3 separate regions of the Homo sapiens genome follow, and all the other regions are linked to region 1. Evidence: fine-mapped expression QTL. A gene starts in region 1. Each other region holds a variant in brackets. All regions are shown on one strand. Distances are between the middles of the regions.

What was found.
Region 2: its variant is fine-mapped to the expression of IL20RA in left ventricle (GTEx, PIP above 0.99). The same link has a PIP of 0.9 or more in atrial appendage.
Region 3: its variant is fine-mapped to the expression of IL20RA in esophagus mucosa (GTEx, PIP 0.98).

What each region holds. Positions count from the first base shown.
Region 1 is chr6:137,041,876-137,053,275 of GRCh38, forward strand. IL20RA (interleukin 20 receptor subunit alpha) reads right to left here and starts at 3,090. Exons shown (of 7, transcript NM_014432.4): 1 at 2,766-3,090. The coding sequence starts at 2,853. RefSeq lists silencers at 2,583-2,632, 2,703-2,812, 2,843-2,902.
Region 2 is chr6:136,956,940-136,968,339 of GRCh38, forward strand. No RefSeq gene overlaps it. Among named protein-coding and RNA genes, the nearest start is that of NHEG1, 31 kb to the right of the region's middle. RefSeq lists enhancers at 1-187, 1,324-1,890 and a silencer at 352-646. The variant C/T (reference allele first, on the strand shown) is at 6,501.
Region 3 is chr6:137,010,101-137,015,100 of GRCh38, forward strand. IL20RA (interleukin 20 receptor subunit alpha) reads right to left here. Exons shown (of 7, transcript NM_014432.4): 3 at 1,174-1,352. Among named protein-coding and RNA genes, the nearest start is that of NHEG1, 19 kb to the left of the region's middle. The variant C/T (reference allele first, on the strand shown) is at 3,110.

The sequences.
Region 1 (11,400 bases):
CATAGGTATACATGTGCCATGGTGGTTTGTTGCACTCATCAATCTGTCATCTACATTAGGTATTTCTCCTAACGCTATCCCTCCCCTAGCCCCCACCCCCCGACAGGCTCTGGTGTGTGATGTTCCCCTCCCTGTGTCCATGTGTTTTCATTGTTGAACTCCCTAGGGAAGACCTTCTTGAGGGAAGCACATTGGCAGGAGAGGCCAAAGTCTGAGCAGGAGTTAGCTGGGAATAGAGTGGCACAGCAGCATTCTAGCAGAGGGGCTGCCAGTATGAATCTCCAGTAGGAACTTCCAGAGGAACTGCCAGTATGAGTGAGATGGGAAACACTTTGGCTTGTCTGGGAAGTAGAAAAAGGCCAGGATAGCAGGAATTAGGTGGTGTGAGATAAGGCTGGAGAGACAGGCAGGAGTTGGCCACACAGGATCTTGTAGAACTGAGAATGATTCCAGGAACAGTAGAAGCCTCTGAAGGGCTTTGAGCAGAGGAGGCAGATGACCTGAGAAGTCACCATCTCCCATTCTATCTTAGTGACTTTAAATGCCTGTTTATATTATGCTAATCATGGTTCTTTATCGTTCCTGAGAACAGGATATGGGAATGGCCAATAGGGCGGAGTTTGATAAGCCATAAGGATAAACTTCACTGTGAAATTCTGTCCCTGGAGGGGTCCAAGAGTGAATGACAGCGTGTTGCACCTGCCTTGAGGGAGCCGCATAGACATTTTGAATTCCATTACAACTTTATCTGAAATGAAATACCAAGATTTCCCTACAAGGTTCATGACATGCTGAGTTTTTTTTTTCCTCTTTGGATGTTTTGGTATTTTACAGCCTGATATGGCACTGAGCTGTGAGACGAAAATTTTTAGAAGTTTAAAAAATGAGAGCATTAAAGCATTAATCTACCTGAGAGTGGCAAAGTCATAGAACCTTAGTAAGCCCACGTTGTACAGAAGACATTGTAGATAATCCTTCAATTACGAGCAGGTAGTATCCAGGTAACTACATACATCTTCTAAGGTGGTCTTCCCAGCAGTCCTTAGACCTTAGCCCAAAGACCCAGGAGAGGACGGGAATACCCTAAGAAGAGCTAAGAAAGTAGTATCAAGGTCTCTTGGGTCAGAAAAGATTTCTTACTGTTTTGTTTTGTAAATTTTATTTTGAAGTCAAGAACATTACTACCTGGTAATGTCAGCACCCAACAATTTTATTTCTCTCTCTCACTTTCTTTGTTTTTGGTTTTTTCCCCAAAGACAGGGTCTCACCCTTGGCCAGACTGGAGTGCAGTGGCGTGATCATAACTCACTGCAGTCTGGAACTCCTGGGCACACGGAGTAGCTAGGACTACAGGTTTTTGCCACCACGTCTGGCTAGTTTTTTATTTTTATTTTTTTAATGTTTAGTATAGACAGGGGTCTCCGTATGTTGCCCAGGCTGGTCTGAAACTCCTGACCTCAAGCCATCCTCCTGCCTATGTCTCTGTCTCTCAAAGTGTTAGGATTACAGGTGTGAGCCACAGCGCCCAGCTTCTCTCTTCGATTAAAAATAAAAACAAATTTCTGTCTGTTAGTTGAAGGCTCAATATTTGCACGTCAGTCGTTTCTTCCCATTCAGTCTACCCGGGAATATTAAAAGGAAAAATAACTATAATTTCTGATAAATTTAAAAGATAAAATATTTTATGTATAATAGCTATCGTTCAAAATCTCTCCAAGATCTGTGTGCATACTTTTCTTATTGTTGTAACTATATTGAATTTAACTTTTTCTTTAACTACCAAGGACTCCAGATTCACCGTCAACTTTCTTCCTGCATTCACTCTTACTGTTCAGTTCTGGGTTAAAAGACAGCGGGGCCTGAACGAAGTGTCTACAAAGCACAGTATTTGGAGAAGCTTTGTTGTTGTTTTTTAAAATAATTTTTTTAAAAAGGGATCCCGGATATCTTTTTTGTTTTTTTAAAAAATCTTTTTCTCATGTACGAGAAATACAGGGAAAAAAAGCAATCAGGTTAATGAATCATTCTGGTTTACTGGATTCCAATTGGTAGAGAATTTAAACTTAAAAACCAAACAAAACGAAAGAGCTCTTCAGTTACCTTATGTCGTAAACGAGTTAAAAGTTTTGTTATTTCTGAAAAATCAAAGAGCACTATCTGTACATGGTCATAACTGCAAAGGAAACAACGGCGTACCCAGGACAGGGGGAGCTTACTTTAAGAAGCTGCGTCTTTCTGGATCATGTTCCTTCGGGGCTGACCCTTTCGGGGAGTTTGGCTTTTAAAGCGCGGATCTCGCGACGCGCGGCTTGCAGGACTGCGGGGCCCGGCGGCCGAGACGCGGCATCCACAGGGGCCCCTCCGCGCGGCCGCGGCGGTGGTGGCGGGAACCTGGGACTGGCCGGCGAGGGGCCCCGCATGGTAACCGTCCCCGACCGCAAGTCATAGGCTGTGGGCACCGCGCAGAGCGCACCCCCCACCGAACTCCCCCCACCCCACCTCAATTCTCGAGACCGAAAGTGCGGAGCGCGGAGTCCTGCAAACTTGACCCCGAGCCAAGGTGCGCGAGGCGACGGCGAGTGTCCCCCGGGCTCCCTGCAGCCCCGGGGCTGGAAGCTCCGGCCTCCGCGCACCTCGTCCTCTGCCCGCCCGAAAGCGAAACCTGGCCGGCGGGCAGGAGGGGAGAGCTCGGCCTCGAGCTCTGCCTGGCGGGGCCCCGGCCTGGAGGCATCCCCGACCCGCACCTGGCGGCGCGACCCACCTACCTGCCCGTCCCCAAGGCGCCGCCAGGAGCAACAGCAGCAGCGGCGGCAGCGGCAGCGGCCGCAGGGCCGGGCGGCCGGGAGCCCGCATGGGCGGCGGGGCTGGGTCACATGTCGGGGGGCAGCAGACTGCTCAGTCCCACGCCCGCTGGGGCCAAGCGCGGCCGCGCGGCCTCAGCTCCGCGCCTGGGGCTCTGCGTGCCACGCTCCAGGCGACCTGAGTCCCAGGGCGCCTCCGCCACAGCCGCGTCCCCCAGGCTTCCCCAGAAACCAAGGGCGAGCGACTCGCGGAGCCCCCACGCGCGCTCCCCCGGCTACCCAGCTGGATGGCAGCGCGAGGGCAGTTCTCGCGGATTTATAGTCCCCAGCCACTCGGCTGTCAGTCCTGAGAGTCTGAGAGTTTCCACCTCTCGGGGTTCATGCCCAGACCAACCAGGTCACTAGGCAGGTAAAACCTCCTTCTGGTAATGAGCGAGGCGAGTGCATTGCAAAGAGATTCTGGTATTCAGGCCGGTCTGATGGTCAGTTAAAGTTCAATATCGGAAGACGGATGAAATAGAGCGTTATTTCTCGATATACAGTTAGGCACTCAGCCGTAGATCTTACAGTCATGCATCATTTAAGATGACAGGATTACCTCCTGAGAAATGTCTTAGGCGAGTTTCTTGTGTGAACATCTTAGAGTGTACTCACACCTATATGGTATAGCCTCTTACACGCCTACGCTATATGGTACAGGCTGTTGTTTGCTCCTAGGCTACAAACCTGTACGGCAAGTGACCATACTGAATACTGCAAGCAATTGTAACACAATGGTAAATATTTGTGTATCTAAACATGTCTGAACGTAGAAAAGGTACAGCAAAAGTACAGTATGAAAGATTTTAAAAATGGTACACCTGTATAGGGCACTTTCCATGAATGGAGCTTGCAGGACTGGAAGTCGCTCTGGCTGAGTCTGTGAGTGGTGAGTCAATGTGAAGGCCTAGGACATCACTGTGTACTACTATAGGCTGTATAAACACTGTATTACACTTAGGCTATGCTAAATTTATTAAAAAATTATTTCTTCAATAATAATAAATTAACCTTAGCTTACTATGATTTTTTACTTTCTACTTTTAAATCTTTTAAACTTTATTTATTTATTTATTTTTGAGATGGAGCATTGCTCTGTAGCCCAGGCTGGAGTGCAGTGGTGCGATCTCGGCTCACTGCAACCTCTGCCTTCCGGTTTTGATGATTGTCCTGTCTCACCCTCCAGAGTAGCTGGGATTACATGTGTGTGCCCCCACGCCCGGCTAATTTGTTTGTATTTTTAGTACAGACTGGGTTTCGCCATGTTGGCCAGGCCGGTCTCGAGCTCCTGACCTCCGGTGATCTACCCTCCTTGGCCTCCCAAAGTGCTGGGATTACAGGCGTGAACCACGACACCCGACCTAAACTTTTTGACTTGTAATAACGTTTGACTTAAAACACAAACACATTGTGCAGCAGTATGAAAATATTTTTTCTTTGTATTCTTTCTATAAGCTTTTTCTATTTTTAAATTTTTCTTTTTCTTTATTTTTTCTTTACTTTTTAAACTTTTTTGTTATAAACTAAGGCACAACCACACACATTAGCCTAGGCCTGCACAGGGTCAGGATTGTCAGTGCCACTGATGCCACCTCACATCCTGTCCTCCTGGAAGGTCTTTAGAGACAATAGGAATTTTTTCAGCTCTATTATAATCGTATGAGACCACCTTTGTATATGCAGTCTGTCACTGACTGAAAAGTTGTTATTTGATTTCATTCAACTCTCACAACCTGCAGTTAGGTCCTGGCCCTTTTTTCAGATGAGGCAAGGGAAACTCAGAAAGTCTAGGAATCATCATGAAGTCCCCCAAACCTGTGAGTGGCCTGTGACCAGTGGTGTGTGGACTTCCACACAAGGCGGTGGGTCCTAGGTTCCATGCTCTTTATAATGGGAGGGGGGAAGGGTGCAATTAAGAGGTGAGTCTTGAAATACTATATGAAAAATCTGAGAGAGGCTCTCAGCTTTGTACCTTTCTAGGTGGTTCTAAAGGTTGGGCACAGCCTGAAGATAGATACACGATTTACCTCAGATGTGTTCCATCTCTTTTGCCCTTAAATGTCTGTTTTCAAATGCTCCAATAAAGGGAAACGACACTCAAATTAGAGCAACTATTGTTTTCTTTTTCTTTTTCTTTTTCTTTTTAAAGGGGGTCTTCAGTATTAAAAAAGATCTTTTTTGGTGAGGAGGGAGTAAGGAGATAGAAGATGGGGCAGGATTTTCTGAGTCGCCTAAGTATGCTACTTTTTCCTTCCTGAAAGACTTGGAAACAGAGGAGGAATCTGGGTCAGAGGGCCCCTTAGGCTGGGATGTTAGCTTCGTGGTGCTGACGTGAGGCCTCTTCAAACCACTTTTCTTGTTTGTTAGCTGGTTCTTTTCCTTTCCACCAAAAGGGGCCCTGAAGGAATCCTGAAAGCTGGATGAGGAAAGAAGGGACTTGCTTCCTATTTGTTTGCTGTTCTTGTCACTAAGGCCCCACAGTGCCTCTTTACCCTGGCAGGGACAGCTAGTTCTAGGAGCAATTGTTTCTAGTTCCCAGCTTCTTCCTGTACTCCCAGAATCAGCTTCACTGCATCTCCTGAGAAATACCAGCACTGAGTAGGCTATGCCCCATTCTCAGAGGTCTGAGTCCCAGTTTCCTGGAGGCTTCGCTTCTGGGATCTGAACCCCACGTCTGCCCTGTGTTCCTTTAACCCTGACGGTGGTAGTTGCTTCTAGTAGTCACTCTGTCTCTTTCAATCTCAGTATTCCTGCTTTACTTTTTTAGTACTCCAACATCTGTTTAACCAATTCCTTACAGCAAATTCTTTCTGTTGAAATAACTAGTGTGGTTTCTGTTTTCCCAACTGGACTCTTATTGATTCCATTGTAATCCCAGAACGTTTTAGGAAGGACTCTGTGTGATCAGTACATTATCAATATTATCTTGAGTTGCTGTTGTTCTTACTTTTTGATTATAAATTGTATTAGTTTACTTTCATCATTATCATCTTAAGTCTTGTGGGTTAAATAGGGTAAATATTTGCTACAAAAGTGTTTGGGGCCAATCATTTTTGGATATCTAAATTTTGTATGCATTTCTATTCAAATATGAATCGTTCAGACCCTTCAAGAGGCTAAAGCAGACCTATACAAAGCCTTCCCTTATCTCCTAAGTCTTCTGAACTTGAACAGTGACATTTCATTATTTCACCAAGTTTTTCCTCCAGCTGGAAAGTGGGAACGGGGTAGGGGATGGAGTAACTGCGACTTGGAGTTTCTTCCCCCATGAGTGGGCTGTCAATTGTCTGAGAACAAACAGTTTTCTGCATGCCTCTCGTCCCCTCTCTCCTTTCCTCTTCAAGTTCCCCTTGGCACTTGTCAGAAGGCAGTCAAAATTTTACCTCTAAGGCTTGTCTTTTACGTGTTCACAAACTCACCACTCTGTCCTCAGAATGGCTAGGGTTCTACAGGATGAGTGTGACCTGAGAACTTGCCATGTATTCAGTTGATGTTTCCCATGCATTGAAATAAAGAGTGGAGTCAGTTTTTCTTTTGTTTGCATCTGTGACCCAGAACTCACCTTAGTGAGTTTCCTTAGTATCTTCAAATCTAACCTCTTACCCCCCTCTGCTAACTTTGGGAAGCAGCAGTCTTGGTTCCTCCCCATCTAAGCCTCCCAGGCAATATAATCTTCAGTGTGTTCTTCAGAGACTTTTGAAATGATGTTTTCGAATTGAGGTTTTCTTCTACTTCTCAACTTTGCAACTCCTCTTGCCATGATTTACCACATTGAGATCTTAATTTTGTGGAACCTGATGTATAGGATTTCCAGGCTTCCCGATGAAAAAGGCCATAAACCACTACTCCTTACCTCCCACCCCAAACACTAATACCACAGGCAAAAAATAATTTTTTTCTATCCTAGTTTAATTACTAAATAGTTTCCAAGGATAATACATACTAATAATACGAAGTTACTGAATTCTTTCTTTGAGTCAGATCCTACCTAAGAAATTTAAATTTCCTAACTACCTCCTTCAATCCTTACAACAATTCTGAGAGTTAGTTACATTACCCCAAGTTTCAAAACAAGGAGACAGACTTGGACAGGTCATTCGTTTAATAAGCAACAGAAACTGGAAACTGAATGCTGGTTCATCTATTTTCAAAGTTTGTGCTTTTAATAATTTCCTTATATGCCTCTTACACTTGAGAAAATGTTATGATTTACCTTTTATAATTAGGTCTACAATACATTGAGCTAATTTTTGTATATGAGGAAAGAGTAAAGATTAATTTTTTTCCATATAGATATCTTACTGGTTTTTGAGGTCTGAACTGTAAAACAGCATGAATATAATTGCTAAAGGCCTAATATTCAGCATATGTAATGAATTGCTTCAAACAAATTAAAAACAAAATAAAAAGACAATCTAATATTGAGTTTATATAGGTTACACACCACTTAGTTGCCACTGTCTTCTTCTGAGAGAGGAAGAAAAACCCTAGCTCCCTAATGTCAACAGATTTCTTGGAAAGTAAATTAATTCTCTCAGGAAGGCAAAGGGGAAAGTACCTACCCTGGAATATAAACATTTGGCTATGGTGGGGAGATAAATTTTATTACTCTCTGAATGAGACCAGATGGCTCCAGATCTAACACCCTTGCAATGTGAGGAGCAAATGATTCTGTGGAAGAGGAGACAGTCTATGGCATGCCAATTTTCTTTGCTCAGGGAGACAAACCATCCAGAAACGTGAAAATATTCATGTTTCCCTGACGTCTCATTATTTGAATATACTCCATTTGATTGCCCATTCTCCGGTTGATAGACATTTGGGTTGTTTCATTATTGAGTTGTAGGTGTCCTTTATGTATTCTGGGTACAAGTTCTTTGTCAGATATGTGCGTTGCGAATATTTTTGCCCACTTCATCACTTGCCTTTTCATTTTTACAATGATGTCTGCAAGAGCAAAAGTTTTTAATATTGATACAGTCAAGTTTTTCACTTTTTTTCGTTATGATTGTGGTGTCTCGTCTAAGAAGTCTTTGTGTATCCCAAGGTTGAAAGAAAGATGGCTTTTCCTAGAAATGTTATAGTTTTAGCTTTTATAATTAGGTCTGCAATACATTGAGCTAATTTTTGTATATGGTATGAGAAAAGAGTAGAGATTTTTTTTCCAAATAGATGTCTTACTGTTTTTGTACTATTTGTTAAAAAGACTTTCGTTCCACATTAAATTGCTTTAGCCATTATTGTTGAAAATCTATTGAAGATATATGTATTGGGTCATTTTTAGATGTCTACTCTTTGGTCTGTTTGTCCATTTTGCATCAATACCATGTTTTAACAAAAGGAGCTTTTTAGTTTTTTAATGTTGTACTTGTATACCGAAAAGTTTCAAAGGCAGTAGTGCAGAGTTTCTGTACACTCCTCACACAGTTGCATCACCGTGGTAAATTTTTAAAACTAAGAAACTTCCATTTCCATTGGCACATTACTGTTAAGCAAACTTTAGATTTTATTTAGATTTCTCTAGTTTTTCTTCTTCTTCTTTTTTTTTTTTGTTTTGAGATGGCGTCTTACTCTGTCACCTAGGCTGGAGTGCAGTGGCATCATCTCTTGCTCACTGTAGCCTCTGTCTCCAGGGTTCATGTGATTCTCCTGCCTCAGCCTTCCAAGTAGCTGGGATTACAGGCACCCACCACCATGCTCAGCTAATTTTTGTATTTTAGTAGAGATGGGGGATTTCACCATGTTGGCTAGGCTGGTCTTGAACTCTTGATCTCAAGTGATCCACCTGTTGCAGCCTCCCCAGGTGAACCACCACAACTGGCCTGGATTTCTCTAGTTTTTCTCTTTTTGTTCCAGGATCCAATCCAGAGTACCATGCTACATCTAGTCGGCATGTCTTCTCAGTCTTTGGTCTGATAGTTTCTCAGGTTTTCCTTTTTTTTTAATGACCTTGACAGTCTTGAGGCGTATTGGCCAGATGTCCTATAGAATGTGCCCCAGTCTGGGTTTGTTTGATGTTTTTTCTCATGATTAGACTGAAGTTAATGGTTTCTTAAAAAAGTATCACAGAGGTGAAGTGCTTTTTTTAATCATATCATATCAAGAGTATATGACATCACATGACATTGATAATGATGTTAACCTTCATCACTTGCTTAAGGAAGTGTTTGCCAGGTTTCTGTACTGTAAAGGTATTGTTTTACGTTTTCCTACTCTGTATTTTAGAAGACAGTCATTAAGTCTAACCTACCCTTGGGGAGGGACAGTGGTGGTGGCCAAAATTAAGCTCCCCCTTCTGAAGGGAGGAAATAACTTTGTATGTTATTTGGAAATCTTCTGCAAGGAAGATCTGTCCCTTCTCTTCTCCCTATTTACTTATTGATTTATTTAAATCATTTATTTAAATTAATATGGACTCAAATGTATTTATTTTATACTTTGGGTTATAGTCCAATGCTACATTCTTTATTTTCTTGCTCAAATTGTTCCAGCTTTTGCCATTGTGAGCTCTTTCAGGTTGACACCTGTGTTGCCTTGATACACCCCCATCCTGTTTTGATTTGTCCTGAGCACTTCCTTACTTTCTGGTAATGTAAGAGACTCCAGCCTCGTCTTGAATTTATCTCTGCTAGCCTTAAAACCAGCTATTTTTCCATGGAACCCTGGTTTATTTTATTGGAGAATGGTATTCCATTGTTTGGAAATTGCAGAATATGAAGGTACTCTGTGTGTGTGTGTGTTTGTGTGTGTGTGTGTGTGTGTGACAGAGAGAGAGAGAGAGAGAAAGAGAGAAAGTTTCTGTGTGCTTTAATCTGGAGGAAACCAAGGAGAAACAATTTCTTAAAAGATGGGTCATTTTTATATAGACAGGTATATATATATGGCTGAAAGCAAAGAAACTTACTCTTTTCTTGATGCCTAAAGAATAGAGGAAGAGTCAAATAACTACAGAAATGGCCCCTTCAGTTTACCCAAATTCCAAATAAGCATTTATCTGGCCCCCAAGTGAGAGTTCAAACAGTGACAGACTCTTCATCTCTCCATCCTTTAATGAACAAATGGAGGATGGGTTATGGGCCAACTGATGGCCTAATGTTGAGGAAACTGCACGGCTCTGGTGTCATATATGGATTAATTCTCAATTCCACTCTATCCAAACAGTGTGGCCTTGGTCTCTGTGTTAGACACTATGATGCACCACCCAGACCCCACTTCAAAGACGGATTTGTTGTCCAAGCTCCTGGGAGTGCTAATATTAGAAGCCTCCAGCTGTCAGCCTTTTCAAGGACTCTCTGAGTGGCTGGGAACTGACTCACCCAAGGTCAGGTCCCTTTCCAAGGCTCAGTTCCAATGACTAATCAGATATGGGACAATGAAGACCTAGTCATCTTGGTCCAACTTGGGGCAATTCTGTCCATTCTAAGTCCAGAGCTCCTTTGGCCAAGGCTGTTGCTGAACCTTCCTCACAGCTCACCTGCATCCACTCTTGCTTCCTTTTCCTCCCTCCAGCAGGTGTTTATCACAAGGGCCCTCCCCAGTAACACCGTACATACTAAAGTCTACCTCAGAGTCTGCTTCCTGGGGAATACACCTGTGATGGCCTCTGTGAACTTCACTGACATCCACCCCCACCCCCAGCCCTATCCCCAGGCAGCCACAGACTACCTTTATAATAAACAATCAGTGGCATCTGGATTTTCTCCCTAGGTTCCTCTTGCTGTAACAATCCCCTACACATTAGAGTTCTTCAGTTTTGTCTTTTTATTCACTTTTCTTCTCACTCTACAATATTTCCATGGGTGATTTCAATTTTTTTTTTTGGTGGGGGTGGGTACAATGTCTGTGGCACAGGCTGGAGTGCAGTGGCACAATCATACCTCACAGCAGCGTTGAACTCCTGGGCTCATGCAGTCCTCCCACCTCAACCTCCCGAGTAGCCAGGACTACAGGTCTGTGCCACCACGCCTGGCTAACTTTTAAATTTTATTTTTATGTTTGTAGAGACGAGTCTTGCTATGTTGCCCAGGCTGGTCTTGAACTCCTGGCCTCAAGTGGTCCTCCTGCCTCGGCTCCCAAAGTGTTGGGATTACAGGTATGAGGCATTGCACCAGGCCAATTTCAGTTTTCAATCTCCAATCTAGGCCTCTTTGTTGAGCTCTAGAAATCCCTCTCTTAATTCCCCAGCTCTACTTGTAAGTCCTATGTACCTAAATTTCAACTTGTTCCAAGCTGAACTCATCTGTACAGTGTCTATATTTTCTGTTACCCAAGTGAAAAGTCTGGGAGTTCTCCAAGACTTCTGTGGCTCTACTCAAGCATTATATCCTTCCATCTTCATCTTCAGTATATTTCTTGCATTATTTCCAGTGTTTCTCGTGGCTCCTTTGTGCCACTGTTATATGTATTCTGTATATATCACACAGTTCTGATAATGTCAAAAATATGTATCAGTTATATATGTATTTATAGCACTATATTGAAGTGGTTACATATATGGCTATTAGACTGTGAACTTCTTGAGGGCAAGAACTATGCCTTGTTCTCTCTCTCTTTTTTTTTT
Region 2 (11,400 bases), 85 kb before region 1:
CACCTAAATGGTACTTCCTTTGTGACTTCGCAGCTGTCATTGTTATGCATTCATCAGGCCGGAAGTGCTCTTCTGTGTATTTTTGGAAAGCTATTCATCTGTTTTAGCTAAACAAACAGAGCTGTTTAAGCTGTTAAAATACAGTACCATAGTTATTTGTTTTTGCATCTTCGAGTTGCATGTAAATGAAAGGTTCGGGCTAATTGGTTCTAGGAATAGTATCCAAAGCAGTTCTAGAGAATTTCTCCCGGTAATTAAGTGGAATGCACTCTGGGACTCTAGTCGGCCTCACACAGAAGGGCCTCTTGGCTTTCCTTGTGGCTGTTTGTGCTTATCTCAGCCAGCTCAGTGGTTGTGGGTAGTGGGCTGTGGGCTGTGGGCTGGGGTGGTTAGGAGGGGAGGAAGAAAAAAGTTAATTACGGCCCAATGCAGGCCGACTGGAGCTCAAGGAGGAGGCACTGCAATGGAGAAAGAGGAGCTGGGGCAGGGCCGGCTGCATAGGCCTGCGACTAGTGCTGGCACACAGCCTCTGAGCCCAGAAGGGGGCCCCGCACTCCCAATGTCTGCAGCCACCGTCTTGGAATTCTGATTTATCTTTGAATACATGGTGTCTTTTAAGTGAAGTCCTAATGGGATGATGGAGCAGAAGCTGGGACCTTGGAGCCTCCCGCCACCTCCCTGCCTTTCCTGGCCCTGGCTGCAGGCTCCCCTTCCACCCCCCTGCCTTTCCTGGCCCTGGCTGCAGGCTCCCCTTCCACCCCCCCACCCACCCACCCAGTCCCAGGCTCTCCCCCACCATCCACCCACCCAGTCCCAGGCTCCCCCACCACCGCCCACCCAGCCCCAGGCTCCCTTCCCACCCACCCACCCAGTCCCAGACTCCCCCACCACCTACCCACCCACTCTCAGACTCCCCTACCACCTACCCATGCAGCCCCAGGCTCCCCTCCCACCCCCCACCCAGTCCCAGGCTCCCCCCGACCACCCAGTCCCGGGTTCCCCCACCATCCACCCACCCAGTTCCAGGTTCCCCCACTGCAACCACCCCCTGCCCCAGTGCAGGCCCTGGTGGTCTCATGCGCATGCTCACCCCCTGCCCCCCACGCCAACCCCTTGCTTCTGAGGATCTGCACTCACCTTGCAGTATTGTGCCGGTGGGCGTGTGGCATTACATAGCAAATTACAAGCACCAGGAAGGGGCAAGAGAGAAACCGTGAGGGGGAGAAAGAAAAATCCTTTCTCTTGGTTTTTGCAAAAGGGACCCCACATTGTCATTTTTCACTAAGCCCTGAAAAGTAAGTAGCAGTCAGGAGCCAATGCACTGGTTCACCACCAAAGCCGGCAACTCAAAAAGCCCAAAGGAAGGCAATCTTGCCAACAACCAGAACGCTCCTAAGAACCTGCAGGAGCTTGACATCCACAGGTGAAGTCAAAGTTTCTCCGGCCAGAGTAAGCATCTAGGCGATTAAGCAGCATCCAGGTGGGGGTGCCTGTGACACCTGGAGCCCCAGAGGGCTTGTTACAGTGCTCTTTTAGCTCTGGGCTCTAGCGCTTGGGCTTCAGCTCTTAAAAGCCATGAATAGAGTAAGGATGAACTACAGGGTGTGGGGATAGAATAAGGGACTTAGTTTTTCAGAGAAGTTAAATGATGTAGAGTTTAGACTCTGATGCCAGGTGGTCATGGTTCAAATCCCTTTCATCCATTAATACCATGACCTTGGCCAAGTCACTCAATTATTCTGAGCTGCCAGATAAGGATCTGTGGAATCATTTCTTGATGAGTCTGATATTTTGCTTCTTTCCCATCTTTTCAGTTATTAAAAATTAAATAAAGTTATTATTTAAAAAGTGGAAATACTTCAATTTAGTCATATTTCTATCTGGTTAGGTTACAATGCCTTATTTCCCTCTATTGATGTCAGTCATGCTTCTGGTGGTTGCACGACAATCCTAATATAAGTGAACATAGGTATAATCTTGGCATCGAGAATGCCATTTATATGCATGATAGGGACGGGGGCAGAGAAATTCTAGGCAGAAAAGTGTGGTCCCTGACGAAATCTCACCCTCAAGCCAAAAAGCCTGAAACCCGTGGTCCAAAGTGAGAACTTCTATCCCTGTTTTCCCATGTGAATGCTGCCTTTCCCTAAACTACCTATGGCCCACTCTGCCCCTATCCTGTGCATAGAAGACTCCAGACTCAGCCAACAGAGAGGAGAAGCAGCTGGGCGTTGGGGTCTAGGGCTGGAAGTTGGAGAGAAGCAGCTTGACTTCAGAGGGACAGCTTGAGCTTCAGAGAAGAATTTGGAGAAGAATCTGGCCAAAGACAGCTGGACTTCAGGGGAAGATTACCTATCCCCCATCCCCTTTTCAGCTCCCCTTTCCACTGAGAGGAGACGGCTGGACTTCAGGGGAAGATTACCTACCCCCCATCCCCTTTTCAGCTCCCATTTCCTCTGAGAGCCACTTTCCTTGGCAATAAAATCCCCTGCATTTACCATCCTTCAATTCGTTCATGCGACCTCATTTTTCCTGGATGCCAGACAAGAGCTTGGGAGCCACAAGTGTGGACATAAAAGGCTGTCACACTGGCCCTTTGCCCTCGCTGGTGGAGGGCAGTCGTCTCACACGACGAGGCAAAGGGCTCACTGAGCTGTTAACACTTAAGCCATCAGAGGACAGCAGAGCTAAGAGAGCACTGTAACACGCCCTCTGGGGCTCCAGGTGTCACAGGCACCCCCACCTGGATGTTGCCATGGGGCCCGCACAGAGCTTGCTCTTGCTGGTGCCGAAGCGGCTGGCCAGTTCCAGGCCTCGTGCACTCCAGTCCCCGCCTTGTTTGCTCGTGCACTCCCTCCTGTGAGGAGTGGAGAGCTGTGGGCTGAGTAAACGATGCACCCCTGTCTCGAGTCCCACAAAGGGGTCAGGCAAATATCCTGCCTCGTGTACACACACATATCATTTTTTTCTTTTTTGGGGGCGGGTACAGGTAAGGGAGGAGACCACCCCTCATATTGTCTTATGCCCAATTTCCGCCTCCAAAGAAAGAAGTAAAAACTAAAAGGCAGAAATGAAATCCACAGGCAGACAGCCCAGTGCCGCGCCCTGGGCCTGGTAGTTAAAGATCGACCCCTGACCTAACCGGTTATGTTATCTATAGATTCCAGACATTGTATGGAAAAGCACTGTGAAAATCCCTGTCCTGTTCTGTTCTGTTCTGATTACTGGTGCATGCAGTACCCCCTGCTTGCTCAATCCATCAGGACACTCTCACACGGACCCCCTTAGAGTTGTAAGCCCTTAAAATGGACAGGAATTGCTTAGTGAGGAGAGCTTGGCTTTTGAGATGCAAGTCTGCTGAAGTTCCCAGCCAAATAAAGCTCCTTCCTTCTTTAACCCAGTGTCAGAGGAGTTTTGTCTGCGGCTCGTCCTGCTACACAGGGTCTCGCTCTGTCACCCAGGCAGGAGTGCAGTGGCGGGATCAGGATTCACTGCAACCTCCATCTCCCAGGCTTAAGTGATACTCCCACCTCAGCCTCCCTAGAAGGAGTAGCTGGGACCACAGACGCATGCCACCATGCCCAGCTGATTTTTGTATTTTTTGTAGACTGGGTTTCACCATGTTGCTGAGGCTGGTCTTGAACTCCTGGGCTCAAGCGATCTGCCCACCCCAGCCTCCCAAAGTGCTAGGATTACAAGTGTGAGCCACTGTGCCCAGCCACATATAACTTTTATAGGGCAAAAAAATTCTCCATTACCAAGCTTATTAAAAATTGGGGGAAAATATTTCAACATCTGTATCAGACAAAAGGTTAATATAAATAATAAGGAAAAAATTATAATCGATAAGAAAAATTTCAAAACTCTATTAGAAAAAAAAACAGGAAAGGCAATTTGCAAAAGAATTACAAATGATTATTACCTAACAAAGAAATGTTCAACTATTAATCAATAGAAACAGATATTTGAAAAGCTTCTACTTCTCAGTCTGACAAAATTTTATCAGCATTGGCAAGGGTGTGGTGGAAGCAGATGCTCTTACATCCTGTTGGCTTGAGGCTTCCCGAAGGGCGCTTGGGCTTCAGCTCTTAAAAGTATTAGAAAGTGAATATTCTTTGATCTGGCATTTTACTTGTAGGTATTTATCCTGAAGAAATAAATAGACATAGATATACCTGTGTTTATCAGGAGTATGGCCACTGTGATTTATACTAGTGAAAATTGTTAACAGCCTAAATGCTCAACAATGGAGATTGGTTAAATATATAAATATATATTTATAAACATATAAATAATAAATACTATGATATAATACATATATATTTGTAGATATACGTATATGTATGCTATACATATATGTATAGCTGGACTATATGGATTACATGTATATAGGATTTTTAAATTATTAAAATAATTATATAAATGTATATTAAGGCTGGGTGCAGTGGCTCACACCTGTAATCCCAGCACTTTGGGAGGCCGAGGCAGGAGGATCACTTGGGGCCAGGAGTTCGAGACCAGCCTGGCCAACATGGCAAAACCTGTCTCTACTAAAAATACAAAAATTAGCCAGGTGTGGTGGTGCATGTCTGTAATCCCAGCTACTTGGGAGGCTGAGGCATGAGAATTGCTTGAATCTGGGAGGTGAAGGTGGCAGTGAGCCAAGATTGCGCTGCTGCACTGCAGCCTGGGTGGGACTATCTTAAAAAAAAAAAAAAGTATAGTAAGAACCTGGAAGGAACTTTACATTATACATTTTTAAGTGAAAAATAGCATGTGTGTATTTTGGAAAAGCAGAAAAGGTTTTAATATTAACCGTTCGTCTGATACAGATATTGAAATATTTTCCCCAGTTTTTAACAAGCACTGTAGTTTGGTGCATGGAATCAGAAGTCAGACTGCTTGGCTTTGGATCATGGCTCTGTCCCTTTCTGGTTCCACCTCTTAAAAGCTGTGTGACCATGAGTAAGTTACTGAACATATGAACAGGACAAGAACTCTGGACGTGTGGGGATGGAAGGTGGAACTGAGATTCGAGTCCCATTTGAGCGCAGAGCCTGTATTCTTAACTTCTGGGCTACATGGAGCCAAAATAAACAGTGGCAGAGAGAGAGAGAGAGAGAGAGAGATGCAGATAAATAAAGATAGTGAAGGGTATTGGATCGATTATGTTTTAAGTACTTTCAAGGCAAGATTTTACTTTGTCTTTGAATTCCCATCATTTAGTTCCACACCTGGTGCATAATAGACACTCATAAATGAATCATTGGGTAGGGTCATAGGCGTGATGCAGAGCAGAAATGCTTAGGTTCTAACAGTGGGGCCATGGGTTGGCCATTCAGATTTGTAACTAAAAGAAAGAAAGAAAGAAAGGGCCGGGTGCAGTGGCTCACGCCTATAACCCCAGCACTTTGGGAGGCTGAGGCAGGCAGATCACCTGAGGTCAGGGGTTTGAGACCCTCCTGGCCATCATGGTGAAACCCCATCTCTACTAAAAATACAAAAATTACCCGGGCATGGTAGCACACGCCTGTAATCCCAGCTTCTCAGGAGGCTGAGGCAGGAGAATTGCTTGAACCTGGGAGGTGGAGGTTGCAGTGAGCTGAAATTGTGCCACTCTACTCCAGCCTGGGGGACAGAGTGAGACTCCATCTTAAAAAAAACAAAGAAAGGAAAGACAAAAAAGAAAAGAATAGGGAATCTTCTAAAATGAAAAAGGGGCACTAAGAGAGAGTGTGGAATATGGTAGATGAAGGGATCAACTCCTTTCGGACCCACAACCTCTTCTTTTTAAGGCTGCTTGAACTATTTATTAGTCTGTAATTAGAGTCCCAAGCGTTTCCTTCTGTTTCCTAAAGGGTTGGAAAAATGCCCCGAGGGCTTGTCACCATAGGCCTTCCCCACTTCTAATCAGCCAGATGGCAGCTGCAGGAAGTGGCAGCTAAAGCAACAATCACAATGTGGTGTTGACAGTGTAGATCTTCCACTGAATGGGGAGTATGAGGAAGCGTAGACAGTGGAGTTTTTCAGCCTGGATTTTAGAATTGGTTTTTGTCAGTTGGGCTTTATATATTAGTTGGGAATAACTAAATAATTTAAACAACAGCTATTTGATTATACTAATCTATTAGGCCAGAATCGAAAAGTGCCTTTTAAAAAGTCCTCCTGGATTAAAAATTTCTCTTAGAAACATTCATAATTCATTGCTGCTCTTACTAATGTCAAAATCTTACTGACTCAGTAAATGGCAAAAGGTGCATGTGGTGTTTGTGCTTATGTATTTATTTCATTATTTATTTGGATATGGGATACTGCATAGAAAGAAAACACACTCTGACTCGTTAGGTATATAAATCTCATAATCCTTAAGGGAAAAGAGACCAGGGAAGTGTATCTACCACTGGAGATTTTCTTTGACATTACAGACTTAAATGCTGTCACTGGCCTCCCTTTGCAAGGGCACATTCTGTTCAGATGTGTTAATAGAAAGAAAGCAGAGT[C/T]TAATGAAAATGCCAGAATGTCCTTTGGGAAGCTGACAAATAGAGTGTGCTGCTGATGTGGACTCAAGCTGCAGACCATCCATAGGCCTATTATTAGAATAGGGACAATGTCCAACCGTTCCTAATTGCTGAATGACATACACCTGCCACTTAATTTCCTCAGTGTCACCTGTGAATTATACCTAAGATCAAACAGCAAGAACATGTATTCATTCAGATATCTGTGTGTCCATCCATCCATCCATCCAGCCATCCATCCATCCATCCATCCATCCTGCCAAAAGATTGAATGTGTTCATTTAAAACTGAATATAGCAGGCTTCATCTGATGGTGCAAATATTTCTTCTTGGATACTGTGATGTGACAAGGTTTTATAGTTAAATAGATTATATTTTTCCATCAAAACAATATTATAATTGAGAGCTTGCTTCTGTTCAAAATATCAGAAATAATTACTAATAAGCTTCCAAATAGTTAGCCAAAGCAACAATATAAATAAAACCCTACAAACTTCTATAATCTATAATATAGCTTAAAAAAAAAGCAAATTCCAAGACATAGAATCTGGGAGATGGCAGAGACTTTGATAATCTTTTCTTTATTTAATAAGAAGTGAGAAAATCAAAGCTCAGAGGACTGGGTGCCACCCACTTAACTTGCCTGCTGTCACCCACTTAACTCAGTAAAGTGAAGGCAATAATAGCCTTGGTCCCCAGGTTCTCAGATCCATGTTCCCTATTTAACATGCTATTCCTGTCCCCAGAAAAATCCTAAGACACATACACGCGTGCTCTCTCTCTCACCTCTCACATTGCTTAAATAAGAGACCACAACATACTGTGAAATGCATATGATGTGAAAAGATACAACTATGGTTCGAGTGTCTAAATTAATAGCTAGCCAAAATAAATGTGACCAAAATCACAACTTTAAAAATTGTTTGCTCTGTCAAAAGCTAATAAAATATGGAGGTAACAAGGTAGAAGCCTGTTTCTCTTAACAAAACTGTTTGGGAACATTTGAGTCAGTAATTACATGGACACCATTTTCTGCCCCACCTAGACCAAAGTCTATTCATTCCTTTTTCCTTCCTTATAGAACCCTCATTTTATTTGGGTCCCTGCCACTCCCCTGCCCCTGGGCGGTGTCTGTGCCTCAGGGGAAGCCAACACTTCCAGGTCCAGGTCCTGCAGGTCTCAGGGGTATTTCAGTCCCTTGCTTGTGATTGGTTCTGGAAAAGGCACTTCATTCAAGTCAGGCAAATGAGACGATACTGGAGGGGAGGCCTAGGGGAGCTTCCAGAAGGTGCTCTCTTTTAAGGTTACTTCATGAGGAAGTAACTTATAAGGTTACTTCACGAGATTGGCCACAACACCTCACTACCTAAGTGACTTCCAAGGAAGCCAGCTCACATTGTTTATCATTTCAGCCCATTGAATGTTCCCAGTGGAGACATTCCACAATGGAGACATTCCACAATGGAGACATTCCCAAAGGAGAATTCCACAGTGAACGTGAATTCAGAATCCCTGCTCCAAAGGTGATTAGGGTATAGACTAGAGTTTCCTGACTTTTTTTGTCACCTCTCTAAAGAACCTTTTTAGATTTTTTTTCTGATATCCTCCCCACAAAATTCAATACCACAAACATACTGCTTATCTGCGTGTGTACTCTGTGTGTATCTGTGCCTTACACATTAACATAGTAAGATATTTTTGTTTCCCAAGAACAATTTTTGTCTTCTGGAAGATGGTATCATCTCCACCAAGAATGGCTTAGAGGGAGAGACAGGCTGTCCTAAAGAGAGGTATTAGGATGAGGATATCCCTAGGATGGGGGTACCCACTCATTTACAGAAAGTAGGGGCATTGCAAATTCTTTTACAAAATTGCCATTGACGAATATGAATATTTAAAAGTCTCACCACGGACTTTATTTGGTCTTGAATTCATTCCATTCCATTGTTTTTTTCTCATCCCCCTTCATATTCTCACACAACAGCAACATCCTAGCAGCCTGGAAAGAGAAAAGAGGCACAAAGGTCAGCTTGGGATAGCATGGGGGTGCAGGGTCCTAAGCCTTGGCTTTGTTGGCAAATCGCCTTCATTTCTGTCATGTCTCTGAAATGTCTCTCCCATCTTTCTCTTCTTTTTCATCTTCTTTGCCACCATCTTTATAAGCCTTCATCACCTCTGATCTGGGTAATGGACTCTCTTTTCTTTTTTTTCCTTTCTTTCTTTTTCTTTTTCTTTCTTTCTTTCTTTCTTTTTTTTTTTTTGGAGACAGGTTTTGCTCTTGTTGCCTAGGCTGGAGTGCAATGGCGCGATTTTGGCTCACTGCAACCTCTGCCTCCTGGGTTCAAGTGATTCTCGTGCCTCAGCCTCCCGGTTAGCTGGGATTACAGGCATGTGCCATCATGCCCAGCTAATTTTGTATTGTTAGTAGAGACAGGGTTTCACCATGTTTGTCAGGCTGGTCTCGAACTCCCAACCTCAGGAGATCCACCTCCCTCGGCATCGCAAAGTGCTGGGATTACAGGCATGAGCCACCGTGTCCAACCACGATCTCTCTTTTCTTAAGCATTTATTAAGGACCAACTGTATTTCAGTTGCTATTATAATCTCAATCAATACAGCAACCCTGTGAGTTACATATTAATGCCTTCATTTTACAGATGAGGAAATGGAGGCTCAAGAATTTTAGTGTCTTGCCCAAAGCTAGACCCACCAGTAAGATATAGACAGAGCTGGGGCCCAGGTAGGCCAAGTAGTACAACTTACGTCCATACTCCTTCTACTGGATTTTGTAATATCTTTAATGTGTTTAAAAAAATCACACAAGTGATAAATGAATACATTCTGTTTGCAAACAAAAAAAGATGTAATAGGTTAATGTTCCCATTAATTATCTCTCTCTATTCTTATTTTCCCCACCTCCATTCCCCAAGGTAACCACTGTCACCATTTGATGTGGCTCTTTCCAGATCTTATTCTAGAAATTTCATATATCTATCTGTGCCTCACTGCACACGAGGGACCAGAACAGGATGGTGGCGCTCACAAGACCTGGGAGGCGACTGCCCGGATGAATTCCCATGACGCTACATCTTGCATGTGGCTAAGCAGCCTCACTTGGGAATGGGTTAGTTTGTAAATCCTTCTCCTCAGAAAGTACAGGTTTGTGATGTGCAGGTGATTCTATCCTCTGCTCCAGATCATGTAGTGAATATTTAGTATGTTTCATTTTGTTTATGTTTCCATCTCTTTCCCTTCTCTAGATGATTTCTCCTCATCACCTTGTTTCTTCTTTTCTTTCCTTTTCTTTTTTTTTTTTTTTGAGACAGAGTCTCACTCTGTTGCCCAGGCTGGAGTGCAGTGGCGCAATCTCAGCTCACTGCAAGCTCTGCCTCCCAGGTTCAAGCAATTCTTCTGCCTCCGTCTCCCAAGTAGCTGGGACAACAGGCATGTGCCACACGCCCAATTAATTTTTGTATTTTTAGTAGAGATGGGGGTTTCACCTTGTTGGCTAGGCTGGTCTTGAACTCCTGACCTCAGGTGATCTGCCTATCTCCGCTTCTCAAAGTGCTGGAATTACAGTCGCGAGCCACCACACCTGGCCCCTCATCACCTTTTAACCAGAACAGTTAGGTCGTTTTCTTTCTCTTTGTGATGGCAACAGTTATTTTTATAGCTGTCTGGGGAAGGTGCTTAGGTAAATATCAGTTTGAGCTGTACAGTAAGCTTAATATAGCCCTTTTCTATGATTGATGAATTCACTACCTTCTTTTTTTGCACTTTTTGTTCAGTCAATAGAACTCGTGAATTAGTGATAGGGAAGTAAATTAGTTTAAGGTTGACAAACTTCCTAGAACCACACCCAGGGATTACACTAGATCAGATACACATAGTCACCCCTGCTCCTGTACATTGGTCCTCCAACCTTCTACTTCCCTGCAGTGGGGCATGCAGAAGGAAAAGGGACACATCTGTGAGGGAAGAAGATGATGCTGCTGACCGGCATAGACACAGGCACAGGCACATAGGGTCCGAATCTGGAGGGACCTACCATAGGAAGCTGTGGTGTGCACCCCTAGAGCCACTATGCCATGACTGTGCCTCCTTGGAGCCACCATCCAGCCTGGAGATCTCCAGGTAGAGTTCTTGGTGGAGATCACACAGGACAGCAATCTGTGGCCATAATACTATTAAAAAGGGGGCAGGGGGCAGTTCATCTTCCTGCAGAGATGGAAGTCAGATTTCCATCTTCCACTTAGATTATGGACAAAGACATTTTCTCTACATTGGTGTTAGTTGGGGCACGGGACCAGGGGGTTAAGCTAACTAGCTTGAAGGGATGTGCAAAATGACCAAGAAAGGGTGTTAGCCACTGCTTACACCCCCTTCAGTTAGCCACTGCTTACACCCCCTTCATGTAGGGGCAAAGAGACAAGAAGGTTCACACATGTGATCTGTCCCAGGAACGTAACAGAAGGTTAAGAACTGAAAGAGAGAGAGAGAGAGAGATAGAAAGATGGGTTCTGTGGTTCAGAAATCACTCCCCACTCTGGTGGGAGTCGGAGATTGGCAGTCAGATGCTGCCACACTTGCTACCATAGGGATGACTGTCATGCCGCAAGGTCTAGTCCAAAGCACATTTAGTTCCCGATGTTAAAGAGGGCTGGGAGGAAGGTGAGTGGTCTGAGAGATGAGAAGAATGCAGACAGGAGAACCAATCTGGTGACATTTTGGTCAAGTGTGCTGTCTTCATTAATTTTCGGTCTCAGGATTCCTAATTATGGAAACCAGCCAATACGTATTTTCTTCAGCCGTTCATCCCTAAGTCCTTCCGGGGCTGGACAGAGGTAATATAACAACTGTCGCCACACGGTGGCAGCAATAT
Region 3 (5,000 bases), 35 kb before region 1:
TGTTTGTAAGATTTCTGTGACTTGAAAAGTTGGTGATAAATGACAACAACATGACTTGATAAGTGGAAAATCAGAGATGTGATTAGAATGATCTAGAACAGAGACCAGGCGACTTTTATCCTAAAGGTCTGGACAGTAAATATTTCAGGCATCGCAGGCCATATGATCTTTGTTGCACTACTCCACTCTTGCTGTATTGCGAAAGCAATCTAAGGTAACTGTGTAAACAAATGAGTGTGGCTTGTGCCCCAATAAAACTTTATTTATGAATAGACATCAACATTTCAATTTCCTTTACTTTTCCAATGTCACAAAATATTCCTTGGATTTTTAGAAACTATTTAAAAATATAAATACCATTCTTAACTCTTGGCTTGTAGAAAAACAGAAAGGGTGTTGTTGGATTTGTCCCAAGGGTAGTTTTCTGACCTCTGATCCGGAAGGGCTCCTGGACTTATGGAGCACTTGCAGAGCTCATTATGGCAGCCCTGAGTGGGTCCTTCATGACTGAGTCAGCCATAGCTCAGGGGATGGCAACATTTTAAAAGTAAATACCAGGAAGAAGTTGCCTTAATTCTGGGTTACACTTGGAAATTACATCATCACACTACCAAGTTCATACAAGAAGAAGCATAGTGGATAATCAGGACAATGTTTAATCAATCTTGTGGAGACATTAATAGTCCATAAACCCACATTAAATAAAGTCATTTTGTTCCTCAAATTACATAGCTTCCACAAAGTAGTAAGACAAAGTCAAAATTTGATATCATTGTCATCTAGTATCAATTTTGGATCTGGGAGAGATCTTAGAGACCACTTGGTTAAACCTTTCACTCTAAAGATGAGACTCAGGCTGGGTGCGGTGGCTTATGCCTGTAACCCTAACACTTTGAGAAGCTGAGGTGGGAAGATAGCATGAGCCCAGGAGTTTGAGACCAGCCTGGCAACATAATGAGGCCCTGTCTCTACAGTCAATCAATCAATCAGTCAATCAAGGTGAGACTCAGAGCCAGCAAGGTTAAGGACTTTGTCCTGCTCACTCAACCCACTGGTCCAGAATACAGCCAAGCAGAGTACCTTCCTCTGGGCAAGGCTGTCTGTGAGGCTGAGACTGTTAAACCTGATATGAATACATGTTTAACTGACCATTGCAATAATGGCATTACTTACTTTCTAAAAAAGGATAGAACCGTCCACTTTCAGCCCATTTGGAACACTTTGTTCCCCAAATGGCCTTAACTTTGGCATAATACTGGTGTTCGTAGTCAGAAGTTTCAGCAGAAAGATCACAGTAGGTTCTATTGATATTTCTGCATTCTGATTTATTCAGCCATTTCTTTTGCCCATATCTGCTAAGAAAGAAGCTGAATTAATAATGAGGTGCCCTCTATACTTTACAATAAAAAAACTCAGTCATTTTATAAAACTGAATGGAACTGACGACCTTCTCTTCAGAAAAACAAAAGTGCCTGTCATTGAGATAAAAAAGAATCCACTTTTGCGGTGGGCAATTTTTTTCATCAGCTGTCAGGAACATGAGTCAGAGTTTCTGTAATCACCTTTCTTTCTGTGAATTATAATGTGGACAGTATATTTTGGAAGCATATATTTTACTGTTATTCTTTGGCTACAGTGAAATTTTTACATATTGTGTGATCAATTCTTCTAGTAATTATCTGTGTAGGTTTTTAGTCTACTATGTACACGAGGTCAGTTTGACGGATTGTTTGAAGAACAGTTTGTCATTTTTTTCTTGGAAGAAAAATTACTTTGACGTTCTCATAGCATATAAAAATCTAAGTATCAATGATTCTAGGGAAAATACACGAGGCTGGAGTGCATACAGAAATCTGCATTTTTGATAATTATAGTGATGATGATAATATTGACTAGATTGGTCATACTGATTTTCCTTTTCTTTATTAAAAACACAACCCCCATAGCAAATAGGGAGGTGGCAATATTTTCAGCCCTTTTCAGGTGGGAGAGACTGAAGTGTAGAGTTCAGGTAACATGTGATAAGCCAGTGAAAGGGACAGGGGAGGCAGTTTGGGAAAGGTGATGGGTTACAAGTGGCAGCCTAGGGAACAGCTGAGAGGACACTACAGTGGTCCAGGGGAAGATGTAGGTCGCTTGGACAAGGACAGGGGCAGTAGGATAAATAAGGACAGGACAAAAGCAAGAAATATTAGGAGATAGGACTTGGTGATAGAAAACATGTAACAGATTAGGGAAATGAAGGTGTTAAGGATGCTGTCTCTTTCTGTCTGGGGCAGATGGGTGGAATGGTGGTGATATTTACTACGAAAAAGAGCACTGAGACAGAACAGATTTGGGAAATGGATGGGGAGGCAGAGCAGGAGGGGAAGATAAGATGTTCACTTTTGATGCCTTGAGCCTGAGTATGTTAGAGATATCCCACTGCAGATGCCCAGTGGGCAATGGGTCTCAGGAGAGACATGTGTGTGGGAGGTAGGGATTTTGGAGTCAATGTCATCAAACTGCTCATTGATGGCACAAGCATGAATGAATGATCCATGGAAACAAAATAAAGTCTAGGATAAAATTTCAGGAGCGTCAAGATTTAAAGGTTGGATAGAAAGAAGACCTGGAAATAGCAACTAAAGAGGGATGAGAAAAAAATATCATAAAGGTCAAGGGAAGAGTGTGTCTTGAGAAAGAGGATATGTCCATGTATTGCCAAAGCTTAAGGATATTTTCTCTTTTCAGAATATGGCAACAGATTTCTGAAAGTAAATGTTTCCCATTTCCTAAGTACCATACCTACCAAAAGACATCAGAAATATAGTCAGATCTTACTGATCAACTTCTCCATCCAAGTGATCACTGTTACTTAAGGGCTTTCAATTTTTTTTTTTGACCATGATCCACAGGGAAAAGAAAAATACATTTTATATTGTGATTCAGCTCACAAAATATAAAACTATCTAACATATTAAAACAAAAATTGTACAAGAAAATATTTAAACTTTACCACATGCCTTGCATTCAGTTATTTTTCATTCCAGTCCATTCCACACCATTCCATTCCTTTCCATTAAAAATAATATCCCTCAACATTCATTTCATGAGTCATCAAAGAGTC[C/T]TGAATTGTGGCTTGAAGACTATTGCCATTGCCTATGTGGCCCCTCCCTCCTCAAACTTCCTCACTCTGCCAAAGGCAAGGCAGCTTCCCATGACAGATGCTGATGCAGGAGAAAAGGCTCTTTACAAGATTTTCAACAAAATAAATGAATGATGACCAGAATCACTCAGCAAATATTCCAGTAATGACACTCACGCATGGCAAACAGCCATATGGGGCCCTCAGTGGTCTCTGATTTACAAGCTTTATCTCACTAATTATCATAACAACCCTAGGGGGTAGGTACTCTTATTTTCATCCCATTTTACAGATGAGACAGCTGAGGCTCAGGGAGATTAAGGGATCCACTCAAATTCACATGACTAGTAAACAGCATTCCTGGGATTTGAACCACTCTTCCCTGACGCCAAAACTTCTGTTTTTAGTGCTACATTCTATTTTTTTGCATTAATTGTTTTGGTGGATAGAATTTAAACTTTTGGAAAATTTTCACCTTGGAAACAAACTTCACTCAAAAGTATAAAAGTATAATCTGTAACCTTCCCAGCTAGGTTCATAGCCTGGCTATGAACTGGGGACTGTCTGACTCCAGAGCTGAGCTTGGAGCCCTCTGGCAGTGAAATACATTGTCTTATATTCCTGTCCCTCTTTCACATGCACAGGCATGTAAGAACTCCAACATCGCAAGCTTCTTTTTAAAAACATATTTTTAAAAGTTGCACAATCTGAGTGATCTGCTCACACGAAGCAGTGATGACTCTTGTCTATTTTTTAAAAATCCCTTTCTGGATCACATAAAACATAAAGGACAGAGCAAGCTCTTTGCTCCACCTAATGGATAAGGAGGCAAGGACATGCTCACGAGCCTTTTCTCTGCAAAGTGATTTCTTTCCTCTAACACTGGCTCCTGAGAAACTCCTTGGAAATGAGAATGAGGTTCTAGATAAATGAGGTCACTGTGAGTCGCTGCTGAAGTCTTTCACTGGTTTTAGTTATCTGAATTTTTTTTTCAAAGACAAAACTGACTTTATTCTTTTTTGAAAATATGGTAAATTTTTTTAATTCAAACAATCAAACAATTCAGAAAGTATAATCAAAAGAGAAACAAATCATCCTAAAACCCATTACCCTGGAACATTTGGTGTGTATGATTCTGGATATCTCATTGTGCTTCTGTATAAACAGAAGGACGATATGATAGCAGAATAGATGGACAAAAATTAGATTATACCATACATATGGTTTTAATAAAAGTAGTCAATTCAATGTGCCTTGAACTTTGATAGAAAAAAGAAATTGAAGTGAGATTAAAGAAACTACAGAAGTGCAAATGTTTGTCACCACAAGACATATTTGTTCCTAAAAGAGCTTTTAAATTAAGAAAATGGTTTGTGAAAAATATTGAGAGGTTAATTATTAAAATAATAAAATATTGTCATTTTAGATGACATTTAATGGCTTCTGGCTATGAAAATCAGTACACTTATAGTTCCCCCCCCCTTTTCCACCTTATATTATTGTTTAAATTCAAATTATTTCTAAGAAACTTCTATAATTACATTTCCATCACTATTTAGTCTTAGTTCTACACTGAGATGAATTCCATGCATGCTACCAGTCTTTTGGTCATCACTAAGTTCTTCTTTTGGGTTTGTCTTTATCTCTCTGTTAGCTGGAGGTCGTCTTTAGTTAGTGCTCCACCTCATCCTCCAGGAAGATCTCAGAAAAGTGATCTCCTGAGTTCCCACCTGCTTCCAAACACCAGTCTACTGAACTTCGTAAGAGTCTTAGGTTATACTTGTCTTTTCCTCACAAGATATATTCTGTTGAGTGTTGCCAGATTGAAATTCTCCCTTTCTCTCAACTTGAGTTCTGCTTTTGCTAAAATGGC